Regions from separate parts of the Homo sapiens genome. Here all the other regions are linked to region 2. The links come from fine-mapping of genetic effects on gene expression. A gene starts in region 2. Each other region holds a variant in brackets. All regions are shown on one strand. Distances are between the middles of the regions.

Region 1 (7,584 bases), 170 kb after region 2:
TGTCTTATACTTTAAGCTACTTTTCTCACCTTTTTGCTCTAAACAACGCTGGCAAATGAACTTCCAGCTTTAGATGTGGCGAAGATGGGCTTTTTGGTCAGACACAGCAGACTCCAAGAAAGTGGACTGGGGGCCTGTAACCCCAGCTACTCCGGAGGCTGAGGCAGGAGAATGGTGTGAACCCGGGAGGCGGAGGTTGCAGTGAGCCGAGATCGCACCACCGGACTCCAGCCTGGGCGACAGAGACACCCCATCTCAAAAAAATACAAAAAATAAAGTGGCCCCGGGGCCCACGGTGCTGGGAATTGATGTGGTGGGAGAGTAAGACTCAGGCTGCCTCTCCGCGTTCTGGGGGACGCTGGAAGCGGAGGCTGTCCCTCGCCTTCCTGCCACTCCTCCCGCCTTCCTGCCACTCCTCCCGCCTTCCTGCCACTCCTCCCGCCTTCCTGCCACTCCTCCCGCCTTCCTGCCCTCCGCTGCCTGTGGCTCCTCACTTCCCCGGCCGTGCCGTCAGGGGCGCTCCAGAGCAGCCCCGGTGCCCACGTCTCATCGCAGCCCTCTGGCAGGACAGCGCGCGTCTAAACTAAGCCGAGGCGCACTTCGCTAAGGGGACCTCTCCGTTTGGACAATCCCGACGCCCGGCTCTACGTGAGGCGTTTTTCCCTCGTTCTCATTCATGGGCGGCGCTGGGCATTCTCTGCCATCCTTAGGGGTCCTCCACAGCATGCGGGAGGCCGGCGCCCCAGGGCTCTTTCACCCCCCGCTGCTCTCGTTCCTCCACGTGTTCTCCCGAGCGACCCACCCGCGTTCATGGTCCCAAACCCCCACCTAACCTCCAGCCAGCGCCCTTCTCCCGAGCTCCAGGCCCCTCCAGCTCCAGTGTGGGCATCGTCCCCTGGTTCTCCTCAAGTCCACTTACACTCAGCCTCTTCCAGGCGGAATTCCTCATCTCCCACACAACCCTTTGCCGCTCTGGTATCAGCTGGTGGCTTCTCCGTGGCCATGCAGAGAATAGAGACAGAACTTGAAACTGATGTGCACATGAGTGAGATTCTTCAGCAAGGTGACAGACAGGAGGGTAAAGAGGAAGTAGGATGAGCTCTTTGCTTTGAGTTTCTGTTTTCCAGGTCGGCTTGATTGGAAAGAGGGATGGCCGTGGTGAGAGTTGACAGTGTGCTGGTAGCCCTCGCAGCCCACGCTCGCTCTCGGCGCCTCCTCTGCCTGGGCTCCCACTTTGACGGCACTTGAGGAGCCCTCCAGCCCGCCGCCGCACTGTGGGAGCCCCTTGCTGGGCTGGCCGAGACCGGAGCCAGCTCCCTCAGCTTGCAGGGAGGTGTGGAGGGAGAGGCATGGGCGGGAACCAGGGCTTCGCGGGTGCCTGCGGGCCAGCACGAGTTCCGGGTGGGCGTGGGCTCAGCGGGCCTCACACTGGGAGCCGCAGGCCGGCTCGCAAGTCCCGGGCAGTGAGGAGCTTACTACCCGGGCCAGCAGCTGCGGAGGGTGTGCCGGGTCCCCCAGCAGTGCCGGCCCACCGGCTCTGTGCTGGATTTCTTGCCGTGCCTTAGCTGCCTCCCCTCGGGCAGGGCTGGGGACCTGCAGCCTGCCATGCCTGAGTCTCCCTCCGCACTGCCAGATGCTCCTGCCGGGCCTGAGTCTCCCCGACGAGCGCTGCCCCATGTTCCACGGCGCCCGATCCCATCCACTGCCCAAGGTCTGAGGAGTGCCAGCGCACGGCGACGGAGTGGCAGGCAGCTCCACCTGCGGCCCCGGTGTGAGATCCACTGGATGAAGCCAGCTGGACTCCTGAGTCTGGTGGGGACTTGGAGAATCTTTATGTCTAGCTGGGGGATTGTGAATGCACCAATCAGCACTCTGTATCTAGCTCAAGGTTTGTAAACACACCAATCAGCACCCTGTGTCTAGCTCAGGGTTTGTGAATGCACCAATCGACACTCTGTTTCTAGCTAATTTAGTGGGGCCGTGGAGAACTTTTGTGTCGAACTCAGGGATTGTAAACGCACCAATCAGCACTCTGTCAAAATGGACCAATCAGCTCTCTGTAAAACAGACCAATCGGCTCTCTGTAAAATGGACCAATCAGCAGGATGTGGGTGGGGCCAGATAAGAGAATAAAAGCAGGCTGCTCCGCGCTAGCACTAGCAAGTTGCTAGAGTGGCCTGCCACAGTGTAAGTTTTGTTCTTTAGCTCTTTGCAATAAATCTTGCTACTGCCCACTCTTTGGGTTTACACTGCATTTATGAGCTGTAACACTCATGGTGAAGATTTACAGGTTCAGTCCTGAAGCCAGCGAGACAAAGAACCCACTGGGAAGAACAAACAACTCCAGACGCCCCAACTTAAGAGCTGTTAACACCCGAAGATCTGCAGCTTCACTTTTGAGCCAGCGAGACCACGAACCCACCAGAAGGAAGAAACTCTGAACAGGCTGGAACGTCAGAAGGAACAAACTCAGGACATGCCACCTTTAAGAACTGTAACACTCACTGTGAGGGTCTGCGGCTTCATTCTTGAAGGCTGTGAGACCAAGAACCCACCAATTTCGGACACACTGGGACCACCCTCGCTGACTGGAGGTAATATTGGTTTTTGCTGTTGAAATTAATGACAAAAAGCGTGATTACCTTTGCACCAACCTAAATGTAAGTAGCCGAGGGCCAGTGTGGTGGTGCTGTGATGCCTTCTA[T/C]GTCACAGGCTGTTTTTGTTTTTAATTTCTCCATCCTTATTAGTGCTTTTCCTTAAGGTCACCTCAGGTCCACAGACAAGGCTGCTGAGCCTCCAGCTATCCTGCCCATGTTCTATTTAAGAAAGAAGGGACAGGAGCAAAGATGTTTTCCAGCAATCTCATCCAATGCATTTGCTGACATTTCACTGGCCACCCCATCAGGAAGGAAAGCCAGACATTTTTTTTCTGCACCTAGAAATTTACAGGTTTTATTAGTTAAGAATATGGTTTAGTAGACTTTGGGTAGGAAACTAGCAGTCGCTGATGTGTGAGGGATTCTAAAAATAAGCTTGGACTTTTAAAAACATGTCTGATATGTTTGTGCCCTGTAGATCCATGTCACTTGGCAAAGTTCCTCCAGAGTTATCTAGAATTTTTCCTTTATTTCAATATCTCATCAATTGCTCCCGATCAGTTGCCAAACCTTGCCAGTTTCAAGTCCCAGAATGTAAACTAAATCTGTTTCCTCCTCTTCATTCCTGATACCACTTCCCTAGTTCAGGCCCTGCTGTTCCTCGCTAGGTCGCTGGCACCACCTCTTGACTGTGTCCTTTGAGTAGGGAGAGTAAAGCATGAACGGTGCCAGCTCTACAGCTGGAGCTTGGCTTTTCTTGGGGGGGGGGGGTAAATAAATTAAACAGAAAATGCTGGTAGTTCCTGTGGTGTATCTGAGCTATCTGTTTAAATAGCTGATTCGTTCATCATTAGGTGTCCAAGGACAGTGACTTGCCTTATTCTGCTCTTATTCTCCAGCACTTGAGGCAATCATTCCCAGATAGTGGAACCTCGAATGGCAGACACTGTGGTTCTCCTGCGGGGCTGAGAACTGTGAGGAGCAGAGCAGACTTCATGGAGCTCCACAAGTCACATACACAGGCGGCTGCTGGCTATTTCCGCTTTCTCATCTGGAATTGGCAGCGGACTAAGTGGGCCCTACTTATTAGGTTGGTGCAAAAGTAATCGCGATTCTTGCCATTAAAAGTAATGGCAAAAGCTGCGATTACTTTTGCACCAATCTTACTATATATATATTATTTTTTCAAATCTCAGTTTTATTCTCATTCCAGCATCCTAATGCTTTCCCTTTGGATTTTTTTTTCTAATCTTGAGAAGTTTGTGTTTTCAGTGTAGTAATAACAATAATAGTGTTCTTAGCACACGCGTTACGCCAAGGGCTTTTAAAAGATACTTTTCATAAACCAACTCACTTAATTCTCACAACAACTTTTGAAGTAGTCCACTTTCTAATCCTCATTTTACAGATAAGGAAACTGAGGCACACAAGGTCAGCTAACCTGCCCGAGGTCTCTAGCTAGTGACTGGAAGAGGTGTTCTCTGGATATTATTTGAATCTCAGTCTCGCTATATTTCTTCGTCATGACTGTAACTTTCCCCCTGTATTTCTAAATATTTTAATCTCTTGATCATATAGCATACGTTGATTTAATAAATCACTTTTACATGCATTATCGTATTTGGTATTCATCACAGCTCTCTGAGGTGGGTAAGGGAGATTTGGTTACTTCTTTCTGACAAATGAGAAAAATGATGCTCATAGACACTGTTAAGTTAGAAGCACAGGGCGTTAATTCTGGAAGTGTTTTAAAGATTACCCAATCCAGCCACTCAACTTTTAGGAAATTGAGCGTCAGAAAAATAAATGCCTTTCTCTAGTTCCCACAGCTGGCTGCAGTACCAATCACCTGCCTCTGAGTTCATTGCCAGCTGGGTGCTGTGGAACTTACCTTGACTTTGGAGTTAATTATCCAACTTCTCTGAGCTATAGTTTACCCTTTATAAAATGAGGGCATGATTATGCTTCATAAGACTGTTGTGAAACATAAATAAAGTTAATATGTGCTGGGCCTAACACAACCCAGATATCCATGAAAAGGGGTCAGGCTTTTTTTGCCCACTCCTCATTTTACCTTTTCTGTAACGCTGTCGTGAGGACATAAAATAAGTTGCTATTCTATAGCATGTATTTTATTCTATACCATGGGGCTAGGAAATAAAAACCCTGCCCATCCCCTGCTCTCTGATGTTTTTTTCTGAACTAGTTTCACGTGCCTCCTTTTACTTGCCATAATCTTTGGCTGCGGAAAACCTCCAGGCCCAATCAATCAGGTTGCTTCTACTCTCTCCAGGCTTTGTTTGCAGCCTGAACTCCAGGGTCCATCACGTCAATCGTACTGTTGCCACTGTTTTTGCACTCCCTTACCCGCTTTGCTCAGCAAAACTCCAGTCCCCCGTCAGTCCAAACACCCGATTTCCCCACCCGTGCACCAGTGCTGCTGCTGCAGGTGACACTGTGAACTTGCTACACGTTCTTGGGCTCACCCCAGCAGGGCCCTCCGTTCTGCAGAGCGATCATTTCCAGTTCTAGTCCTGTTTCCCTCACAGCTCTTTGAGATTTTCGTGTCATTCCTCAAACTCCAGACCTCACCACCTCACCTTATAGCAAGAGTGTTTGGTACCCTGCTGAGAAAAGCAGTCATCCTCATGGAAGATCGCTAACGTCAGCAGGGTGCTTTCTGTGGGGCAGACATTGGGGCAAGTCCACCATTTATGTCATTTCGTCCATCTTCACCAGAGTGCCAGGTAGTAGATATCGTTATGATTGTTCCATTTTAGAGGGGAAGCAGCTTAAGCTCAGAGAGGTTGTGTAACTTCTCCAAGGTGGAACAGCTGGGGGAAGAGAGCCACAAGCAGCTCATGGCTTGCCTCTAGAGCTGACCTATTAAGTATCAAACAACAAATTCCTCTATGTTCTCCCCTGTACACAACAAACTTATCTTCGTTAATTTTTAAAAATTAGGTTTAAAAAATTTTCTGATTTATTCATGCATACAATTTAAAGAGGCAAACAGGTATGAGGAAACAGCAGCCCCTGACCTTCTTATCCTTAACTTCCACTTCCCCAGAAGCAGCCACTTTTAACTGAATTTGTTTGGCACTTACATCCACGCTTGTAAATATCACGCTGATGCTGCCACTCACTGATATGTCCATTTGATCCCCTCTGTGGACTTCCCACGGGGGAGCATGAGGGTTTAGCTCTTCCACACAGCAACACCCCTTTCTCTCAACACAGACAACACATTTTCTGTCTGTCCCATCTTCCTATAAGTTGTACTCATTTATGTAAGATATAAATGCTAATCATGACTACGCACAGGTATGTTATCATTACTTTTCCTCTTCTGAACATTGGTGTGAGGCCTAAAATTAAGGCCCTGTGGTATATGCTGCCCTGACCTTTGGTGAAACCAGGAAGGCATCAAATGGTCTAACCTCAAGTTCCCCTCAAGCCTGCACCTGTGGATAAGGTCCCTTGGCTAAACACCCCTCCTTACTGAGCGGACCAGGCACAGTTCCTGCCTATTCCTGAGTAACAAGTTTCGGTTCCCTACCAGCCTGGAGTTTTATTCAGACAAGCCAATCACACCCTCCCATGGGGACCAGGGGTCACCTCACCCCCGTGGTACTACAAAGCCTGGCTCCCGCCGCCTGGTTGCTCACTCTGCTCCTGAGGGCCTGAGTGGTGGGCATCGCTCTTCTCCCCTGGGCTGTGAGCACTTGCTGTTAATCAACGGCCATCGATCTTACCTGGCCAGTGTCTGGCGTTGTGGGTCCAGCCATTCCTCCCTCAACGAAGAGGTGTATAGAAAGCGAGTAAAACACACGTCACTTTGTGTTTCTAGGGTTGATCCGAATCTGCTCGGTTTTCCAGTGTATACATCCTCTCCCAATCCCTTCAAACTTTAATGTCGAGTTCCTCTTCTTGGTGACTCTGACCTCTGGTCTAGCTTGGTGGGTCACTTACACCCACTCTGTGGCCATCACCTTTTGGAGATTTTGCCTGTCTGAAAATGTTGTTATTCTTACACTTACTTGATAGTTCGGCCAGGTCTGGAGTTACTGGTTGGAAATTATTTTTCTTTAGAATTTAGAAGCCATTTTCATGTCTTTTAGTTTCCAACATTGCTGTTGAGAAGTTCAAAGCCATTCAAATCCTTAATCCTTCATATGTGATCTGTTTTTCCTTTGCTATATGGAAAACATTCCCCTCACCGCCCCCCCCTTTATAAATTTACCAATGAAATGCACTAGTGTGGTTCTATTTTCATTCGTTGAACTTGAATGGGTCTTTCTAATCCAGAAATTCATCCTGGAGCTCTGGGACCATTTTCACGACTGAGTCAGTTGATGGTTTTCTCCACTCCATTTTCTTTTCCTGTTTCTACTTTCTGAAACTCATATGATATAGATATTGGCTTTCTTGAATAGTTCTCTAATTTTATTATCATTTTTCTTTTCTTTCCTTTTTTTTTTTTGTTTGAGATGGTGCCACCCAGGAGTGCAATGGCTGAATCTCGGCTCACTGCAACCTCTGCCTCCCGGGTTCAAGTGATTCTTCTGCCTCAGCCTCCCGAGTAGTTGGAACTACAGGCCCACGCCACCATGCTAATTTTTGGATTTTTAGTAGAGATGGGGTTTCACCATGTTGGCCAGGCTGGTCTTGAAATCCTGACCTCAGGTAATCCGTCCACCTTGGCCTCCCAAAGTGCTGGGATTACAGGCATCAGCCACTGCACCTGGCCTTTTTTTCCTATTTTCTGTTTTTAATCATCAGCTTTCTAGATTTCTTTACCTCATCTTCTAATCTTTCTACTGAATGTTTTATTTCTCCTGTTCTATTTTTAATTTGAAGGTTGGTTTTTGGTGCTCTTTTTGGTAAACTCTAGGCTTGTGGGTGGGGTTTTATTGATGGCGGGCTTCCCTGTGGGATGAGTTGGCTGAGCATTTTCTCGCAGATCCCCTACACTGGTTGGTCTCTT
Region 2 (10,698 bases):
AATGAATGACAACATTCTCCTGATTCTCTTCCATACTCTTTTATACTCTACACTGACTCACCTACAACTCTGGCATTACAAACTTGTCTTCCAACTCTTCCTCCACATGCATTTATTACCACCCTTAAAGATCTCATCTACTCTGCCTCAAATCATGAAGGATCAGTGCACCAAATCTGCAATTTCAGCTCTAACCTCTCTCAAACACCTCGTAACATTCCTCCTAAAATACCATCAAACCTAAGTTATACGATTGGCCTTCACTATATAAGAGTTCTGCATCCATGGATCCAACCAACCTCAGGTTGAGAACGTCTTTAAAATAAACAATAAAACAGTAAAAATATAAATAGTACCCCATTTTATATCAGGGACTTGAGCATTCTCAGATTTGGGTATAAAATCCCAAACCTCCCTTAGAGACCAAGGGACAACTATATAGACTTTTCACCCTTTCGCCATTGCAAAATAACAGCTCTTCCAGTTATTTTCCAATCTCACCACTTCCCAAATCAACCAAGTTTGCAAACTAACAAATCAAACAAAAAGGAAGGGGTTGGGAGAACATCAAATGTGGAACCTAGCTCCAGCTTTGTCACTAATCAACTGTGTGAATTCAAGGAACTTGCTTAATCCTTTCGACTCTATGTATTCGAGAAATTGAAGGATGGACTAAAATCTTTACAGCCTCCTGGCTCTCAAACCTTCATTTCTCAAAAGTTATCCAAACTTGACATTTCTTTCTCAATTTCTCAAAATGGTTCCCTTTGCATTTCTGCTGCTACCACCTAGTTAGAATGGGTATTTTGTTCATGCAGAGTATTCCTACAGTCTTTTGGTATTCCTGCTTTCTGCCCCCAATCCCAGTCAACCTATTCAAACTTCTTTGTGATATTATTCTTTAGCTTGAAAATATTCAGTATTTCCCCTTAGCCTGCTAAGTATATGATTCTTAACCTTGCATTAAAGACCTTTGATAATCTAACCTCTAACTAATTTCCTAATTTCCCAACACTACTTCTTATTTCAAAACAAAAAGGCATACTTCCCAGACTTGCAACAAGTTCAGTAACCAAGCTGTCTTGAGCCAATAACACCACCTAGTGGTGAAGGCTCTAAAGTAATGTAACATCTTGACCTCTTCCCTTCCGAAAGATAATGCAAACATTACTATTTTCTTTGTTTCCTGCCCTCCACTCCTCACATACAGCTTATTTGTTTTCACCTTTCTCTTCAACGTTTCTTTCTTTTTCTCTCTCCTTAACCTCTGCCTCATAAAAACAATCCTCCCTTTTTTAATAAGATTATTTAAGTCATAGTCAAGATTCTCTATGTTCTACCTAGACAAAAAAAAGAAGCCAATCCTTTTCCTAAGATAACATGGTACGGTGAGGTCTTCAGAATTTCTCTCCACTCATCACACCACAAGCCACACTATGCTTTCTATAACTTGCTTTGCACACATCATTTCCTCTGCTTGAATTGTTCCCCTCTGATTCACACTTCCCTCAGAACTCACATTATCCTAAATCCACCTGCCCCAGATCCCCCAGCTCACTGAGGTGCTGCTATGGACCACCTTGACCTGAATGGATCTCTTATCACACTGGTCTATAAGAGACTGTGTACTTGTCCTCTCCCTTATCAGACTACGAGCTGCTTGAGGGCAGGAAACACGATTTGTTCAGCACTAGATGTTGTGTCTGGCCCAATGTTTGACACAGAGGAGGTCCACTATTGTTGGATTGGTAAATGGACAGATGAATAAAGCGTTAAGAGTGAGAAATGTGAGGCAGGACTGTGTTGGGGAGGGGATATAGAGAGGGATAACATAGGAAAATAAAACATCCATCCTTCTCAAATTAACAGAAAATCCAGGCACAACCACGAGGCTGGTAACAACACTGCAGGTGGCTGCTCTGTAGAGGACTCATTTCCAATAGCTCAGAAAGAGGTCACCACCCACCTTACGCTGCCTCAAAATTGGCTATAGATAATGCCAGATCAGTGTCTGTGTTGCAGATTATCACAAAGCTCTAACCTTAATATTCTATGAAGGATACAGATTAAATCATGACTAATATTTCCTAAGCAGTGTATAGAAGCCTTTATTATTTTTACTTTATAGACTTATCTTCACATACATAATGAACCCTTGGAATTAAGCAAGAATTCAGGCAATGTATTTAAATCTGGGACTTACAGTAAAAGATGACTTAAAAAACTTAAAAGAGTGAAATATGCAGATTCCTCATCAGAATATATTTTTGAAATGAAAAGTTCCCCTCAGGTATGAGAAAATGGCAACTTCCTGATCTTAACTGATGTATATCACTCATTTCAAAAACTCTTCTCCAGTGTCTAAGGATAAATAAGCACTTGCAAACTGAACAATTAAGTGAGACCAAAAGATAGAGTTTGGCTTCAACTTCTACATAATTTGGTCAAAAGAACAATTATCTAGCGCAAATCCCACTCATAAAGATTAAACAGCACATCCAGCCTTACGGCTCCCTGCTATTAAATCAGGTCCTTTAGGCTACAAATTATGCCACTGAGACAGAATCTAATGCAATAATAATGTACTAATTTGATTTGGCTGATTGATTCTACGTAAAATCAGCCAAACTTGGGTGGAAAGCAAGCGGGTAAAGTGTTAAAACATAATCTCTAAGATCCTATCCACCTCTAACATTCAAAGAAACGACTGCTTCAAAGGGACCTCAAAGCAAAGTCTAAAGGCAATGGAAAGGTAGAGGATGATCAGGGGAATGAAAACAGAATTAGTTTGTGCATAATTTTTAAAGATTTTTCTTCTCTTCTTTTTCTTTTCTTTTTTTTCCCCAGGCTGAATTGCAATGGCACGATCTCGGCTTACCACAACCTCCGCCTCCCGGGTTGAAGCGATTCTCCTGCCTCAGCCTCCCAAGTAGCTGGGATTACAGGCATGCACCACCACACTCCGCTAATTTTGTATTTTTAGTAGAGACGGGGTTTCTCCATGTTGGTCAGGTTGGTCTCGGACCCCCGACCTCCGGTGATCCGCCCGCCTCGACCTCCCATAGGGCTGGGTTTACAGGCGTGAGGCACTACGCCCGGCCATAATTTTTAAACATTTTTCTGTTGGCACCTGTCCGGACCATGGATTTAAATGATCTACTAACATGATGAGAACCCAACGGGGATACTTCAAAAGAGACAAATGAATATACAGGTGGCCCGAAATGATTTTATAAAGTCCTCTAACAACCACACTTCTTTCCAGAGTGCCAAAGAATTTGGCTCATTTAAGGTGTTCATTTTTCAAAAAATGGTTATACAAATGCAAACTTCATTCAAATCAAACCTTACCTTGAGCTTGTTAAATGCCATGTTTAGCATCACTCAAGGCTTATACCAATTGTTGTTTTAAAAAATTACATAGTGCTTTAAGTATTTTTACATCTTAAATACAAAGGAATAATTCTAACTGTGGAATCAGAGCTGTCTTCCTAAGACAAAAAGACAAAGACAAATATCACAATTAACTATTAACTGGAGAAACACCTTTTCAAACGTCCCTGTAACAACTGGATGTGTTGGACAGCATAACCAAACTCATTAAGAATAGTGTGAAAAACATCACCATTACCTAGTTCTCACACACAGATACCTTCTTAAACTATCGAAACCTGTATCTGAATATACGAAGCATTAAGAATCTGCTTTTGAAAAGGAAATGAATATCTGAAGGTCATTTTCTTTTCAATCTTTTCTCATACTAATAATCACTGTTAATATCCACTTTTAAAAAATCGCCTCTATCAGGCACCCGGGAATTGCTTAACAAAAGCCACTTAATGAAACCACAGTTCAGACAAAAAAAAAAACTTAACTGCATAGAAAATATTTATGAGTTTACTTTCCTAACTCATACAATTGCGTCCTTGTTTCCAAAGCCTTGCAATTCACATCAGCGGGAACAAAAAAATCTAACACACAGCAGAAAGCTGGCTCTCTAAAAGAAAGCATTTTTTTTTAAAGGCAATGAAGGACCAAAAACTCTTTCTTTTAAAAAGATCTTAGAAGTTCCTCCTCCAGAGAAGACAGAAAACACTGACAAACCGCACATTGTGCAGATGTTCAGCCCCGAAATGCAGCCTCGCAGCCCTTCACTCCGCAGTCCACCGGTTGCATCTGCACCTCCGGGCAGCGCTCCTGCAGGGCGCAAACACCCAGAGACCCAGGGACCCGGCAGCCCCGCGCAGGCCTCCCGCGTGCACCGCTCAGCGAGCGGGTCTTTCGCAGACGGCGGGATGCCCCAGGAGACCGCGAGGCCGGCGCAGCCCGGCGAGCTCCCGGAGGGAAGGCGGCGTGTCAGAAAGGATCGGACCCCAGCAATGGCCCCGGATCGGTCCCGCGCGGTCGCCTCCTTTTCCCGCTCCGCCGCCGGGACCCCCCTAGCCAGTGCTGAATTTCCCAACTGGGAAGGACCGAGTCACTCCACCCTCCGGGAAGTCGCGCGCTCATCCGTTTTCGGCAGCGCCGGAGCCCGAGCCGGGGACCGGGCGGACACCCACAGAGTCCGCACCGCAGCGCGCTGCACGCTCTCGCCCCCGCCCGCCGGCCCGCGCCCCAGCGAACTAACCGCAAAGTTGGCCCGAAGTGGCGACGGCGCTCTCGTGGAGCTCACCCGCCGTCTCAGCGCGCCCCCGAGCAGGGACCGGGCCTGCCGGGGCCCTCGCCGGGCTCGCGCGTCCGCATGGTACCTGCCGCACGAGCCGCTCCCGCGCCCTCTCCCCGCGCCCGGCCGCCCAGCTCGGCGCCGGCGCCTCACGCTCCCCGAGCGCAGGAGATCCCTCCGCCCCGGCCCCGCCCGCCGGCGCCGGCGCTCATTTCTCGGGCGCGGAAACTCGAGCCCACTTTCCCCGGCTGCCGGCTCTGGGACCGCGGGCTCGGCCACGCAGTCCCGCCCGGACCCAAAGAGCCCCAGTCCCTGCGAACACCAGGTCCGTGCTGGGAGACGAGAAGGCGCCCAGCGGGGTCTAGCGCGGCTCCGAGGGGCAGGGCGAGGCTTGTGATGCCGAGGTTAGTTACGGCCAGCCACAGGCGCTGTGCAAGGAATTGGGGAAAGCTCCCTGCCAAGAAAGGGAAACGTTAGCTTAGCTAAAAAAAAAAAAAAAAAAAAAAGGCTGGGGCCTAATGAGAAAGCTTCCCAGAGGCATCCCTTTAGCTTTTCCATAGCCTTCTGGGAGCCCCTGAATCTGCATTTGAATGGCGCGGCTCTGGGTCCGCGAAGGTTTGGTGGGCTGAAGTCGTCCTTCAGGTCTCCAAAGGAATGCAGCTAGGTCGGAATCTACTTCCTCCTTCAATCCCCAGAAAATGGAAACGCTTCCCCCGCGACCTTTTTCTGCCGAGTTAGACCCCAGGCCCTCCCCGCCGCGGGCGCCTGGCCTCCCCCGCTGACACCCCGGACGCCCAGGCCTGTGGGACAAAAGGCAGTCGCGGCGTCCCGCGGGCTTCCTAGCCCGGGAGTCGGCCCCAGGGGCCCCAAAGCGTGACCCCAGGCCGACAACTGCAAGTTCCTAGGCAGAGGGGAAGCCCCAGCGCCGAGAAGCCCGCTCCGAGAACTCCCCGCGCCGGGCGCCCAGCCTGAGCGTCCCGGGCGCGGAGCCCATCCCCGGTGCGGGCAGGGCTCCAGCCGCAGGCTCGGCGCAGGGCGGACTCGGCCGAAGCCCGGAGGGCCGGAGGCGCTGGGACGCAGCCCGGACAAGAGGGCGGACTTGATCTCGGAAAGTTTGTGGGACTCAGGCATTTTAACACTGGGAAGACAAAGAGATCCGATTTCCCTGGGACTGGTGAGGGGAGCTTGGCGGGGAGGGGAACGGCAGGGCAGTCAAGTGTGAAAGAGAATTTCCTGGGTTCAAAGTTAACGCAGTCACCTTATAAGCCATCTTAGAGGTGACCGGAAAAAATAATAATAATAAAGGTGTCTAGCAGGTTGTGGCTGGGAAGGAAAAATAATGCCTGCAAGATGAGTGTGCCGATTCGTAGCCCTATATTCCCTGCCCACCAGTTGGAATACACATAGATTCACACATCCAGCAAATGCAAACTCCATCATCCAAAGACGTGTTTGTCCCGGCCATAATTGCTCCAAGTGCTTACAGGTCAATTTCATACATGGAACACCTCGAAAGTGGGTGACCTGATCTCCAAGCCCAACCGGCTTGTGCCGCTTGCCGAATTGTAAATCTCAGCAAAACCCAAACACACCGGAACTCCAGCCGTTTCCTGGGAGCGAGGAAGCGGGAGTAATGCTAAAAGGGGAAAAGAAGAACAGTAAAAAAAGTACAAAGATACCATTCCCTGACGTAAAATCACGGGATTTTTTTTAAATGGCACAAGAGAATTCCTGGAGAAGATTACCATTAATTAATAAGTAATAACGCTTCCTAGGGCTTACTAGATGTTTTACATCTGTCTGGGAATCCCGATTTTCCAGGCTCCCTGAGAAATCTATCTGCCTGGAAGAAGTTGCACTTCGTCGCCACAGGAGCCGCCGAGAGCCAGGGATGGAGATTTCAGACTTAGGACTCTGCCACGATTCTACTGATCCTTAAGCGCCAACAGAACGAAATGGACATGCCTATTAGCTACCACAAATCGAATTATTTTATATGAGAGAGAGAAATGTGGTTCAAGTTCCACATTTGTCCTTTAAATAATCGACCCTCCCTAACCCTGTCCCCAAAGGCTCGTGGAAATTAGGGAGGGGGTTGGGGAGACGGTTCCAGAAACAAAACGCTTTCCTCCAGCACGGCCTCTACATCCAGTCCACCCAAGCTGATTTTTGTAACTCATATAAAGAATGGGCCCGGGTGGGTGGTCAGTGAAGACTGGGGTGAGCAAGCGCCCACGTCGCCGAGCGCCGGGGAGGTCCAGGTTCGCCTCCGCACAGAACCCTGCAAGGAGCGCGCCTCGCCAGGTGCCCGGACTAGAGGGCGCTGCGCCCCTGCAAATCTCGCGGCCCCGATGCGCCCTCCCTAGGCACCATTGCTATAATAAGTTACATTCAAAATAATGCACAAACAGCATCGCCTCTCAAGTTCTTTTTAACAGTGCTCTATATGTATTTTATGAACTCCCAAAGCTATGCATACGAATCTTTCATCGCCGATCCGCACAAAGCCAGAGGGATGCGCAGCTCCTGGAGCCGAGAACCCGTAGGGCGCACACGCTTCCCCGCACTCGCTTAGAGCCACACACCCCACGTAATTTCATTAACGTTTAAACTTAAATGCCAAAAGGCATGCACGATTTGAACAAAGAACTCACCAGTCTAGCCGAGTCCTCGGCCCTGGGCTCTAAAGTCCTCGGCAGCTCCGTGATCCCCTCGCGGTGTAGATATGTGTTAAGAGCCGGGTTTGAAGTACCAACTTTGCCTCCCCGGGATCTTCAGCATGTCCCTAACCAGAGTGCCAACGTCCGTGCCGCCGGGACCCAGGCGGCCGCATCTCCGGAGGCTTCCGACCAGGGCAAACTTAAGCACCAAACGCAGGCGAAAAGAGAGTGCGCGGGGCCGGAACGAGGGCCCGGGAGCAGCCAAGTTTGTCAGGACGTGCCCAGGCAGCCAGCCGCCGAGTTGAGGAGTTGCGGCCGCCGGCTGCGGCGACTCGCTGCCTCTTTCCCCACTCCCTCCCCCTTGGAGGCGGTGGGGGAGGGGAGGTGACGTCAGCGCCCCGCCTCGCCCCCCGCCCCGGGCGCGGACGGGATTCTCCGGCTGGGCGCGCCACCCCGACAGTGGCAGCAGCGGCCGTGGAGGCTGCGGGGGTCCCGGCCTCTGCGGTCTCTCTGGCCGGCCGCAGCTGTGGCGCGGGTGAAACGCCCGCCCTCCTCCTTCGGCTGCGTCTCCCGGGCGCCGGCGAGCGCGGGCGTTCCTCGCACTCAGCGCCTGGAGCCGCCTGGAGCCCCGCTGCGCGCACTTCCCCGGCTCGCGGAGCCCCTCCGGCGGCGTTTCCCACGCCGCGGACTGCAGGTGATGCTCTTCCTCTTCTGCAGCCGAAATTCGTCGCGATGTGTCGCCTGCCAGATTTTTGCTGGGCGGAAGCATGAACAGTCTCTGCAGACTGGCCTGGACGACTTGTACTTTGTGGCCCTCCAACTTCTGGATGTGAATTTTTTTTCACGACTTATTATTATGCTCTTCGTGGTCTTTGTGTTGAAAATCACGGAGCTGTATTTTTATTTTCAAATTCTTTCCCAATGCTCCTCTTGTCTTGACCGTACTCTGAAGCTTATAAGGTTCTGAGAGGAGGGGGCGAAGGGATAGGGGAGGAGCCAGTTCCTAATGTGTCTTACAAGTCATCCCTAGTGATAGGGGCTAATACGCAAATCACTGTCTCCTCCTCGAAATAATATCCATTTAGATAAATGCAAACACTGTTGAGGTTTAATTTATAAAGAATGCGTCGTCTTTATGTAAGTGTCCAGCCTCCAGGAAAATATCTGCTGTGGAATATATTTTTAATGCCACTAAAGTACCAAAATACCTCCCCGAACAGCGTGAAATTCCGAGGGAGCCATTTCTGTGAGTTGACATTGTCCCCAGAAGATTGTCATTAACATTCAAGATCCTTGCAAAAGGGGGCTGGGGGCGGTTCTATCATATTTGCATCCGTTGGTATAAATATGTTGATCAGTTTAGCTGGTCGTTCTTTTACAAAGGTCAAGAGCAAAATTCTGAGCACAGAGGAAACTGGGCAGGGAGCTAAACAGTAAGGAGAGAACAAGATTAGGTGATTGGAATGTTGTGTGTGTTTAGCCTTGAAGTCATAACTTGTCTAAATGTCAGTGTCCTCATCTGTGATATGGGACTAATATCTGCTTCATGTGGTAAAAATGTATTCATGTGTTTATCCATTCAAAAAAAAAACATACTGCACTCTACTTGCCAGGGAGATAACAGTTATTCATGCAGGCAAAGCATTTTTACTGAGCATCATATGAAGTGTCTAGCACGCACATAGTAGGTACTTAAACAATATTAGTTTTCCTGCCCTCCCCCGCTCCCTTCCCTCACTTCTTGGCAGTGTCTCAGTTTTTAATCCATAAAATCAGCATCATCACCACTGATTGGAGATTCTGCCAGGCAGGTCTCCAGACTCAAGTCAGGTCTCCTGGGCTCAAGAGATCCTCCTGCCCAAGCCTCTCCCTCAAGGTACATTTTGATTTGGAAGGGAGGAGAGGATCCAGGGAGCTAGGACACGGAGGGATATAGGAAGGGATTTTAGAGCTCCTGCAGACCCCGAGGGCAGCTAGAGGGTGCCAGATTCCTAAGGAGGGAGGAGGCTGGCTTGAGAGGCCAGTCTGTCAGTGCCCAGCGGACTTCTCCTGCTTCCCTGTTTCAACTACACAGGCTCTCTCCTTTTGTGTCAATAGTTGAAATTAGAAATTGACCACATATTGCAAGTCCTCAAAATGATTCACAATAAATTCACCCCGAGAGGCTTCTCGCTGAAGTCCATTTGGTTTGCTATACTCACTTTAAAGTTGTAATAAATAAACCAAATTACTTAAAAAAGATAAAAATCACAAATGACAGGAACTTATGAATAACAATTGATGATATTAGTCAAAATAGCTGGTTTTCAAAGTGAGATGGGCAGAAAACTTTTAACAGAACCTCTAGAGCTGTGCTAATGTAGTGGGCAGCCACTTGCCCCCTGTGGCTACTTCCAGTTAAACTAAATTAAAAGGCACTTCCTGAGTCTCACCAGCTGCATTCCGAGTTTCAGTGACCATGTGTGGCTAGTGACAATTGTATTGATCGCAGCAGATCAAAGAACATTTTCGTCATGACAGAGTTCCACTGGACACCTTGGTCTAGACCTTTAAAAACACTGCTATTTTATGGAAGGCTACATCAAGCATTAAAATTTCAGTGTGTCCAATACTGAGTCACCTCTGAAGTATAAGGGAGGACCCAGAATCATGGAAGGATTCATTCATTCAGCAAATATTTATCAAGTACCAACAATATGCTGGGTGAAAATATGTAAGACCCAAGATTTAATGAGGTAGGTGTGTTTAGTGATTAAGAAATATTAACATGGCCTTTTAGTTGTTTTCCGTCTTTGCTGACTCATAAAACCAGGGGAAATCATAGATTTAAAGCAGGAAACAATTCTGAGACATTTTTTGGAATAGCCCTAGGACCAAATACTTCTAAGTAGGCTTGACTGACTCCTGGCATCCCACCCTCTCTGCTGCTTTCACTGCTTTCTCATCTGCCTGTGTGCCCATTGCGGCCTCCCCTTCCTGGAGGTGAGAGGAAATATCAGCCCTCTCCACTTCCCCTGCACCTTGGAATTATTTTACCCTTTGCATTCAAATACAGCTCTTCTCCGGAATCAGCTTGTACTCTCAGAGGGAGCCATTAGAACATTAGACACCTGGCTGGGCACGGTGGCTCATGCCTGTAATCCCAACACTTTGGTAGTCTGAGGCGGGTGGATCACCTGAGGGAAAGGGTTTGATACCAGCCTGGCTAATATGGTGAAACCCCGTCTCTACTAAAAATACAAAAATTAGCTGGGCATGGTGGCGGGTGCCTGTAATCCCAGCTACTCGGGAGGCTGAGGCAGGAGAATCACTTGAACCCGGGAGGCAGAGGTTGCAGTGAGCTGAGATGGCGCCATTGCACTCCAGCCTGGTGAC
Region 3 (10,698 bases), 32 kb before region 2:
TCTTTTCCCAACTGCATTGTGAACAGAACCCTGTGCCTTTTATCCGCCTCATACTCTTTTCCAAGTTCTTAACATGAATTAATAGCTGCCAAGGAACTGCTTATTGCCTAGTATCACATCCTTGATAATGTGTTCTCAGATGATCCCATGAAACAGTCTATCTGTTTGGATCCAATCACTACACTGCTGATTATACACTATGGACACAGGTGAGTGAATTAACTCATAGGGATACTTGGGAAGGAAAAGAGAACTTATATTCTTGATTTCAACAGCAAAATTACATTTTTAAATTTAATTTGACAAGCCTGATAGCAGCGAAAACGAAAAATTCAACTACTTCTGATTTTACGAAGTAGCATCTGGCCAATGAAATGAAGAGTGAAAGCATGTTTTACAGTCTGTCCATCCCTCATTAGCCTTTATCTGGCATACAAGAGACGCTTTTTAAACAATTAATTAATGTGAAGAAATAAGCCTCAATATGCACTGGGGACAAAGATCGAGAAAAGGTAAGTTAAATCAGAGAATATGATCCCAAAAAGTTGGGTTATAAAAATCAGAATTTTTAAACACACAACCAGAACCACAGCCACAAAACTAACAACCACTGTTTCAATTATGATAGTTCCCTGACTGAATTAGTATTTTCCACTCATAAATCTGCCATCATTTTGATTTCTGTTTCTAAATCCAAATATTCAGTGGCAGCAAGAATGCAGAGAAATGGGCACTCACAAACTGCTGATGGGATGTCTAGTTCTCATAAAAACAAACAAACAAAAAAAAAGAACAGCTTTTAAAAATTTCATTACCTTTCACCCAGCAATTTCACTTCCTGTTATTTACGCTAAGGCAACAGAGATACACACAAACAAGGAACTTACATATTCAAAAATTGAGTATTACTATACAAACAGGATGAGTGTCCCAAATCAAAAAATCTGAAATGCTGCAAAATCTGAAACTTTGGAGCACCAACATGGTGCGCTGGGCATTGTGGATTTCAGATTTCTGGATGTGGGATGTCAACTGGTATAATGCGTATATCTCAAAATCCAAATAAATCCAAAACACTTCTAGTCCCAAGTATTTCAGATAAAGATGCTCAACTTCTATTAGTCTGTCTCTGTGCTGGCACTCTATATTCTAAAAATCACATTCTTTAAGAATACCTACCAACCAGAAAATGTTCTGGATATAGCAGAAGGCAGTCAACAAAACTACACGTTCAGTAAATGTTTTCTGTTCATCATTTTTACAAATCCCGCACCTGGCACTGGAAAGGCATCTTTGTGCAGGTACATATGAGTTAGGGGAAAAGTTCACCAGGGTTCTAGGTAGTAAAATTTTAGTCATGTTTTCTCCTTTCCAGTAGTTTACATTTTCCCAGGCTTCTACAATGACTATATACTGCCTTTTTATTGGAAATAAAGATCATTTTTTTAATGAGGGGAGTTCGCTAATTCTGTCCAAATGCTATGGAGACTCAAAGCTGAAAAAAAAAAAAAAAAAAAGCCAACACTATGTAATCATTTCCAAATTCCCTTTTCATGACCTTAAATGGGACTTCTAAAGCTAAGCAGATGCCCCAGCAGGAAATAAATTTGCAACTCAACAGAGGCACCCACAGAGATATGGCAAGATGCACCTTCGGTGGCTTTGGCAATAATTTCCTTTCATTATGTGTGAAGGAATCTTCACTCTCCAGTGCTTCTCAAGTCAAAGAGAAGCCTGTAGAAGTTAATAGGTCCTTAATATGTATCTGCTCCCTGAACTGATTCCTGTTCATAAGGTAATCGCGGACCCCATGTGGTCCTTTCACAGGGGCTTCGGCAAATCCCCTGCAGTGAGATGGCCCCTGGGCAGCTCTGTTTTCTGCAGACCAGGCTGTGACCTAATCAATAGGGTTCCAAGCAAGACAATCCCTACATTCAACAGCTCGGAAGAAATGAAGGGGGACGCAATTCAAGCTTTATTGACGAATTCCATTTACCTGTCACAATGATGGTTCACCCAGCAAGAGTACCCCCCCCGCCCCCCCCCAAAAAAACACACACCCTTCAGCTGCTACAGTAGACTTTCCAGCCAGCAGCCGGCACAAAATAAACATATTTACTTAAGCTTCAGTCACAACTCTTGACGTGAAACTGATGAAGCCCAAATGAAACAGGTGTATCTGTGAGATACAAAGGCAGCAGCCACAATGTGGCAGGGTAGGTTTTCATAACCTGTATTCGTTTAAACCCAAGGACACAAAAAGTACCGCAATAAATATAAAGCAGAAAATCACCCCAGCATGCAGATCCCAAAATTTACATGGAAAATTCCATAAACCTGAAAATGACCTTTTTAACTCTGAAAAGAATAAACAGGCCATTGAAACAACAGAAAGGTCAAGTTTACAGAAAGCAACTACTTTTCAAAAAGAAGTGTGAAAAGCATGGGTTTTGAATTAATTATACATGTTAGCAATTGTGGAAGCCCACAGAAACTTTACAGTTAATGAATAAAGATTTCACTTCACTTGGAAATGATGGACCTGGTCTAAATAAATCTTTTGGAAAATCACTCTGTAAAAATATCACTTTAAGATGTCATATACTTTCACATAAAGAAGATTTGTATCTTGTACGTCAAATCAAATTAGAATTATGCTACAAATCCAAATTATGCCCCCCAAAAAGCTATTTAAATGAGGGAACTTCAATAACAAATGTTTATCCTCAAAAAGACACATGATTTACTCGGAATTTTACAAAAGCTATCACTGGACATTTTTTTTCTTTTTGCATTCACATCCAATGACCCATCATGGACAATTTTTAATTGAAAACAAAGTCTGATTTTAAATTAACTTCTGGGCTGTTTTTCCACACTCATTAACCAAAGCGAGAGAGAGTCCAAGTCAAAAGACTCCAAAATGAGCTCACACACTCGCTTAACATCACAAGAATTGCTTCACTGTAATATTTTTAAAGCCATGCCAGGATCTAGGCCACCAGCCTCTTCAACAAATAAATTTTCAGCAACACCAGTGTAATAGGCTTTTAACATCCTCATTGAATGTCCTTAGCCCAGGGTATCTGGCACCCACCCACACCAGGCTAATTCAACAGGCAGAACTACTTAACTCTTCCACTTCCTTTCCCACAAGGGCATGCACACCCGCCACACGACTCGACTCCGCACACCACCTCACCTGGGCGATCAAGCCTTGCTTTGTTGGTGGTGATCTCTTAATATCCAGAGGAAAATTAACACACCATGTGACTCTTTAAAAAGACTACCGCACTCACAAGCCCATTAGAAGATCTCATACCTACTTTTTCCCATCACCCAAATGAAGGGAAAGAGTAACTTTCCTATCATTTTTTCTCAGGTTTTAGTAGCCCCTTCCTCAGTTACTATTCAATTACATTTTCCCTATCCCTATAGGATAGCTACAAATAAACAAAAAACATGTTACTGCATTGCGTTACAGAAAAGTGTAGTAGAATTCAAAGCTGTATTTCTCTAAAAAGAAACATTTTAAAAAGAAGAGCAAACACTTGAGACTACAGAGATAAATTATACTTGTTAGGCATGAAGCCGTTATCTCAAGTTTACTATTCATTAGAATGCTGGTAATCTTAGGACAGTTGAGGAAGTAAAAACAATCAGAAACAAAACCATTCCCACCAACCCCAAAAGATTCCAGCATAGGTAATTTGCAAAAAAATTATAACCAAAGTGAATGATCAGAGACGTAGCTCTAGGTCACTTATTTCGTGTACGTCATTCACAGAAGAAAATCTAATAGCCTGCACGGTGGCTCACGTCTGTAATCCCAGCACCTGGAGGCCGAGGCAGGCAGATCATCTGAGGTCCAGAGTTGGTGACCAGCCTAACCAACATGGTAAAACTCCGTCTCTAATAAAAATACAAAAATTTAGCTAGGTGTGGTGGCTCACACCTGTAATCCCAGCTACTTGGGAGACTGAGGTAGGAGAATCACTTGAACCCAGGAGTTGCAGTGAGCAGAGATCACGCTACTGCACTCCAGCCTGGGCGACAGAGTGAGACTCTGCCTCAAAAAAAAAAAATCTAGTAGCCCACTATCCAAATTTAAAGTCACAAATATCTTTAAGGCAGTTGAACTCTACATAAGTCTCTAAACTTGCATTTGAAATGGGGCTAGTCGAAACTGAAATTTGCTGTAAGGGTGGAATATACACTGATTTAAAGACTTCATAGGAAAAAATGAATGTTAAAGGTCTCATTAATACTTACGCTAATCACATGCTGTAATTGTACTTTTTGATATGTTGGACTAAATAAAATATATTATTAAAATTTCATCTGTTATATTCTTTTTTATTGTGGCTACTAAAATATATAAAATTACAAATAAAGACAGTACTATTGGGCAGTGCTGCTTTTGACCTGTTATACTAATTCATTTGATTTAAAAAATAACGAGTAACGGTAAAAAGTGGCAGAATTTGCACAATTTTGTTAATATAAATTGTAAAAATCAGTTCACCTTTCACATATGAGCACCTGTATCTAAAAACAGTAAACTTTGGAATATTTCTAATAAGTGGTTTCATGGTCTACTCTGGGACATGAATCACTGTTGTGTTTTGTTTTAGCTTATACAGAGTACACCGTGCTGATTAGGTGCCTCTAGTGCAGATTCATCTCTAACACCAAAAGAAACAATTTAAGACTTTTATTCTCTTCGCTAACATGATCTTCTATATACTATATCCAAGACTTACTGTTTATGAGAATATCACATTTTAAGTCACCATCTCTACATTAGGTTTCTAACAAAGTTTGTCAACTAACTTGTTACAGAATCTTCATTTCATTTCATGAGAAAATTTTTTGTTAGAAACAAGGCCACTGAGCCAGGCGTGACAGGCATGTTGGCTCACATCTGTAATGTCAGCGCTTTGGGAGGCCAAGGTAGTAGGATGGATCACTTGAGCTGAGGAGTTCGAGACCAGCCTGGGCAACATAGCAAGACCCCACCTCTGCAAAAAAAGTAAAAAAAATTAGCCGGGCATGGTGGCATATGCCTGTAGTCCCAGCTACTCAGGAGGCTGTGGTGGGAGGATTGCTTGAGCCCCGGAGTTCAAGGCTGCAGTAAGCCCTGATTGTGCCACTGTACTCCAGTCTGAGAAAGTGAGATCCCATCTCTAAATAAAAACAAAATAAAATATTAAAAAAAACAGAAACAAGACGATTCGTTCTGACATTTAATGATCACTGAACCTTTCTACAAGCAGTAAACAATAAACATGTATGCTTTACTGTGGCTACTATTTTTTTTTACCTATAATAATGATTATTTTTATGTGGTTCTTTTTCTAATCTCTTTGAGGAGAAGAATGGCAGCTGGGACTTACTACTTCTCTAAAAATCTCTGTTAAAGAAGGCCACAAGTTTGTTTTTCTTCCCCCCCATGTATATGTCAATGTGTTCAAAGACATCCACTCCCAAAATTTCCAAACAGAAATAATGTCAAAATGCTTAGTGAGTCAATACAGTTACACGTTTCTATTTCAAATCCTAAGATTTCTATTTCAACTTACCACAGAGCACTTTCCTATTAACTGTTGCACATACGTCCCGTAACAAACAACTCTAATATAAGCTAAAATTAGCAAAATACTAAGTGGTATTAAAATACATCTTAGGTTATTTATTTATTTATTTATTTTTTTGAGACGGAGTCTCGCTCTGTCGCCCAGGCTGGAGTGCAGTGGCGCAATCTCGGTTCACTGCAAGCTCCGCCTCCCGGGTTCACGCCATTCTCCTGCCTCAGCCTCCCGAGTAGCTGGGACTACAGGCGCCCGCCACCACGCCCGGCTAATTTTTTGTATTTTTAGTAGAGACGGGGTTTCACCGTGTTAGCCAGGATGGTCTCGATCTCCTGACCTCGTGATCCGCCCGCCTCGGCCTCCCAAAGTGCTGGGAATCTTAGGTTATTTTTAAAACTTTTCCATTTAAGCTGAAACTTAAGCAGAGATGTCAGAGGGCTGCATGAAACCTAAAGATACCAAATCAACACTCCTATATTCTCTCCTCATTTCGGTGTCTATTTCCACGCCCCCCAGTCTTCCATGGACTTCCAATTCCATTTCCCCAAGTATTCCATTCTCTACGGGACAGCAATAAATCAATGAGATAGTTTGTGACAAATTAATTAGCAGGAAGTGGTGCTAATGAGAAAAACGA[A/G]CATCTGCAGGCCAAAGTCTATCGTGAAGAACCCCTTGCTGCCCTTTACCAGACACTCCATCTCTCCGCCTTTCACTTTAGAAACACGATAACTGGAATTCTCCAATTCCTTTGGGGGTAAGAAACTTCAGAGATCTTTGTGATAGAAAATGAAGTAGGAAGACGATGGAGGAGCATTGCTTTGGTATCTTCAGACTTCAAGCATCCCCCTGGTATCTCTGCTTACGTTCTAGTTTAAATGGAAATGTGCTAAAAATAACTTGAAGATATACTGTAATGCCATTACATGTTTGAACAGTATGACAAACTTAAAGTATCGTTATGTAAGACAGAAAAGTTTTAAGACCATATTGATATTTTCACAATTTTCACAAGCCTTTATATAGTAATGCACATTTAACATTCAGAAGGGATTCCCTCAAAGGGAAACGCAATCGGGTAAAAGTGCCTCTGGAAGTAGGAACATGAACACAGTACTCGGCAGCTCCTCTCAGCAAGGTTAGCCTACCTCCCTACCTGTGGCTGGATGAACGAACTGTGTCACAGCACGTGGGAGATGACAGTGGAGGAGTTCTGAGCCTTGGCCCAGCGGATTTGCTGCTTTCCTCGAGCACCCAGAACCCCGAGACCACCATGTAAACGGGTCCAGGACAGGCTGCGGGATGATCACAGACACAGGGCCTAGGAGCTGCTGCCTGCAGCGAACACCCAGCCACCTCCTGGGAGCAGGGCCCTCGAGCTCAACAGCAACTGATCAAACATGAGTCAGCCCGTGGAAAACAGCCAAGGAAACACCCAGCTGAGCCCAGCCCAAATCGCCCACCCACAGAACGGTGACCCAAATGAGTGGAGGCTGTTCTAAGCTATGAGGTTTTGGGATGGTTTGTTTCCCAACAAAAGGCTAAATGCCATTCTCTGTAATTTCCTTCACAATACTTAATATTGGCCCAAAGACAATAAAACGTTTCAGTTCAGCTCTGGATTTGCCTACACTTATTCCACTTGAGTTTCTCATGTATTTCATCTAACCTAACAGCCATCTCCACATTCCTCACAAGATTCAACCTCTCCCAGACTCAACCTGCCTCTCATCTAACCCAACCACCATCTCCCCACTCTTCACAACACTCAACCTCTCCCAAACTCAACCTGCCTCTCATCTACTAATCCAACCACCATCTTCCTATTTCTCACAAAACTCAACATCTCACAAGCTCGACCTGCCTCTCATCTAACCCATCCACCATCTTCCTATTTCTCACAACACTCAACCTCTCCCAGACTCAACCTGCCTCTCATCTACTAATCCAACCACCATCTTCCTATTTCTAACGAAACTCAACATCTCCCAAACTCAACCTGCCTCTCACCTAACCTAACCACCATCTCCCCATTTCTCATAACGCTCAACCTCTCTCAAATGCAACTTGCTATGAACAGATTTCTACTCAAATACACAGTGAACAACTTCCACAACGGTTTCCTTTCCTTCCTTTAATCATCCTAAAGAGTTACTTTTAAATAGAATAATGAAGTTAACTGAACTAGCTACTGATAATTTTCTATTTATATGAGTGGAAGGTTTAGAATCAGAGTTCCTAAGTAGCAAGAAGAGTTGACAAAGAACAAATGAGTTTTTAAAAAACTTTTACTTAGATGTAGTTACTAAAATAAGAAAACTACTTTTAGTTTACATACATATTATTTTTCTTAAAAGAGTCTGGTAACTAACTAAATTTCCCCCCATTATTCAACCACCCTTTAAAAGAAAGTGTTTGGTTTTAAGTAAATTGCACCTCTCCACAGAAGTAACCAAGACACTTAAAATACAAAACAGGCTGGGTACAGTGGTTCACACCAGTAATCCCAGCATTTCAGGAGGCTGAGGAAGGCAGATCACCTGAGGTCAGGAGTTCATGATCAGCTAGCCAACATGGTGAAACCCCGTCTCTACAAAAAATACAAAAATTAGCCAGGCATGATGGCGGGTGCCTGTAATCCCAGCTACTTGGGAGGCTGAAGCAGAAGAATCGCTTGAACCCAGGAGGCAGAGGTTGCAGGGAGCCAAGATCGTGCCACTGCACTCCAGCCTGGGCAACAGAGCGAGACTCCATCTCAAAACAAAAACAAAACAAAACAAAAATACAAAACAGCTTTTTCAAAGGATAGTTGGGTGAGCTCAATTTAATCCAGAAAACCAACAGTTTCAAAAATAATCTGTGAATCTCTAGAAGTAACTATTTTCTTAAGTTTTAAGAAATTCATCAATAATGATACTAACAAAAATAGATCCTACTAATCTGAACGTTTTTTAGAGTTCAAGTTTTTGCTGAATAATGTGCAATGGCAATGGATACTCATCTTTTATACTTAAAACAAAAGAAATACTTTTCAATCCAGAGGATGATACAGGCAATAGCACTACTCTACAGCCCAAGGACACAACACGTAACTCAGGTATATTCACCTGGAAGGCCAGCCTCAGAATCTAGATACTCAATCTCACAAAGGAGGCTGCTCCTAGGTAAGCAAAGCAGAAACAAAGAGGAACCCGCATTGCTACTAAACTGCTTTGTTGTTCTTATTCTTGTAATTTTGGAAGGTATGGGAGACAGGGTGTCTCAAGTGGAAGAGCAGCCTTAACTATATTAAAAAGGACAAATTTAAAAGGGCTTTCTCAACAATAGTTATTTAGATAAGCGTTTCCCTTTAGTATTTTGTTACAATCTATTTCCATTTTAAATTTTACGCATTCAACCAGTATTGGCTGGATGCCTAGATGCCAGTCAGTTCCTAAGTAAGTGATACAGACACGGACAGAGTCCAGTTTCAGCCTTATATTCTGGTGGAAGTCAAATGACAAAAGCAGATTTTTTAAACATGCTAAAATAATTTTTAATATGTATTATATATAAAACACACACACACACACACACACACACACACACACACACACACATTTTTGAGACGGAGTTTCACTCTTGTCCCCCAGGCTGAAGGGCAGTGGCACAATCTCGACTCACTGCAACCTCCAGCTCCCAGATTCAAGCAATTCTCCTGCCTCAGCCTCTGGAGCAGCTGAGACTACAGGTGTGCGCCACTAGGCCCAGCTAATTTTGTATTTTTAGTAGAGACAGGGTTTCACCATGTTGGCCAGGCTGATCTTGAACTCCTGACCTCAGATGATCCGCCCGCCTTCACCTCCCAAAGTGTTGGGATTACAGGCGGGAGCCACAGCGCCCGGCCATAGGCCCTAGAACACTTATTTTAAAAATTACTGACCTTAAACTCTAATCTTGATACTTTGTAGATATGAAACTTCGTGTGACTTCTTTCTGAAATCAACATTCTGCCAATTAAAACCACATATGGATATTACTCATGTTCATACTTTCCTAATCAGTTTCCATCTTCTAAATGAGCTTGCCACACTATTAAGAAAAAGCACTTCCTTTTAAAATTTTTTAGATCCTTAAAAAATAACTGATTTCCATTTTGTTGCCTCAACCAACAGACTAACTTGGTATTTACATGACAAACCCGCCTTTTTTCACTTAAATATGTAAACACCTTCAGCTGGGCAACAAATCGAAAGAAGAGGATCATGGGACAAACATGCACAGGATCTATGAAAAGATGAACACCCCCTGAGCAGGCAGCTACTCGGTACCAGCCCTGTGCCAAGCACTGTGATAAGAGGAACACGGACGTCTGAGACAGAGTAATGTCAAGCAGCCCTAAGAATAAAGAGGCAAGTAAAAAAATTAATAGAAAGCTAAAAGCAAACCAGGACCCACAAATGCATTTTGGAGAATCTTTTAACTAAGAACTTATGGCAGGGCTATTTTCCATAGAGGTCAAAGAACATACGGCAAGTCCATTTAAATAAAAATTCTGGACTGGGCACAGTGGCTCACGCCTGTAATTCCAACACTTTGGGAAGCCAAGGTGGGCAGATCACTTGAGATCAGGAGTTCGAGACCAGCCTGGCCAACACAGCAAAAACTCGTCTCTAGTAAAAACAGAAAAATTAGCTGGGTGTGGTGGTGCACACCTGTAATCCCAGCTACTTGGGAGGCTGAGGCAGGAGAATCACTTCAACTTGGAGGTGCAGGCTGCAGCAGGCAGAGATTGAGCCACTGCAACTCGACTCTGGCCTTGGCAACAAAGCAAGACTCTGTCTTAGAAAATAATTAATTAATTAATTAATTAATTCTGTCTGCCAAGGGAGCTAACTTTATCATTAGAGGCCTGAGTTTCCTGACAGATTGCCTTAATAAGTAAAGGAATACTAGTGGTGTGGCATTAAGGGTTTTCCATGGTGAGCTGGCAAAACTAAAGACCAAAGCCTGGCCTAGAAAGCTGCTTAACTTAAACGAGGTATCAATGACCCTTGGACAACACGAGTTTGAACTGCACAGGCCCATTTACACATGAACTCTTTTCAACTGAAGGCAAATCAAAAACACA

Direction of the effects. Alleles are on the strand shown, and positions count from the first base shown. SD is a standard deviation of normalised expression in the study named. Not every link is listed here.
For the expression in tibial nerve of the gene that starts at base 4,820 in region 2, G is the low allele of the variant in region 3 and A is the other (small effect, 0.37 SD a copy in GTEx).

Evidence for each region. PIP is the estimated chance that this variant, and not a neighbour inherited with it, causes the effect. A credible set is the group of variants that fine-mapping cannot tell apart.
Region 1: its variant is the best candidate, but not a certain one, in a credible set for the expression of FAT1 in fibroblasts (GTEx, PIP 0.73).
Region 3: its variant is the best candidate, but not a certain one, in a credible set for the expression of FAT1 in tibial nerve (GTEx, PIP 0.61).

What each region holds. Positions count from the first base shown.
Region 1 is chr4:186,888,775-186,896,358 of GRCh38, forward strand. The region is part of intron 1 of LOC102723906 (a long non-coding RNA gene); the gene reads left to right. LOC105377599 (a long non-coding RNA gene) reads left to right here and starts at 493. Exons shown (of 3, transcript XR_939596.2): 1 at 493-2,594; 2 at 3,497-3,687; 3 at 4,006-4,209. The variant T/C (reference allele first, on the strand shown) is at 2,705.
Region 2 is chr4:186,719,037-186,729,734 of GRCh38, forward strand. FAT1 (FAT atypical cadherin 1) reads right to left here and starts at 4,820. Exons shown (of 27, transcript NM_005245.4): 1 at 4,628-4,820. RefSeq lists enhancers at 4,261-4,762, 5,263-6,262, 7,445-7,946.
Region 3 is chr4:186,686,617-186,697,314 of GRCh38, forward strand. All of the region lies in intron 2 of FAT1 (FAT atypical cadherin 1), which reads right to left. Among named protein-coding and RNA genes, the nearest start is that of FAT1, 32 kb to the right of the region's middle. RefSeq lists enhancers at 1,215-1,835, 3,067-3,566. The variant A/G (reference allele first, on the strand shown) is at 6,229.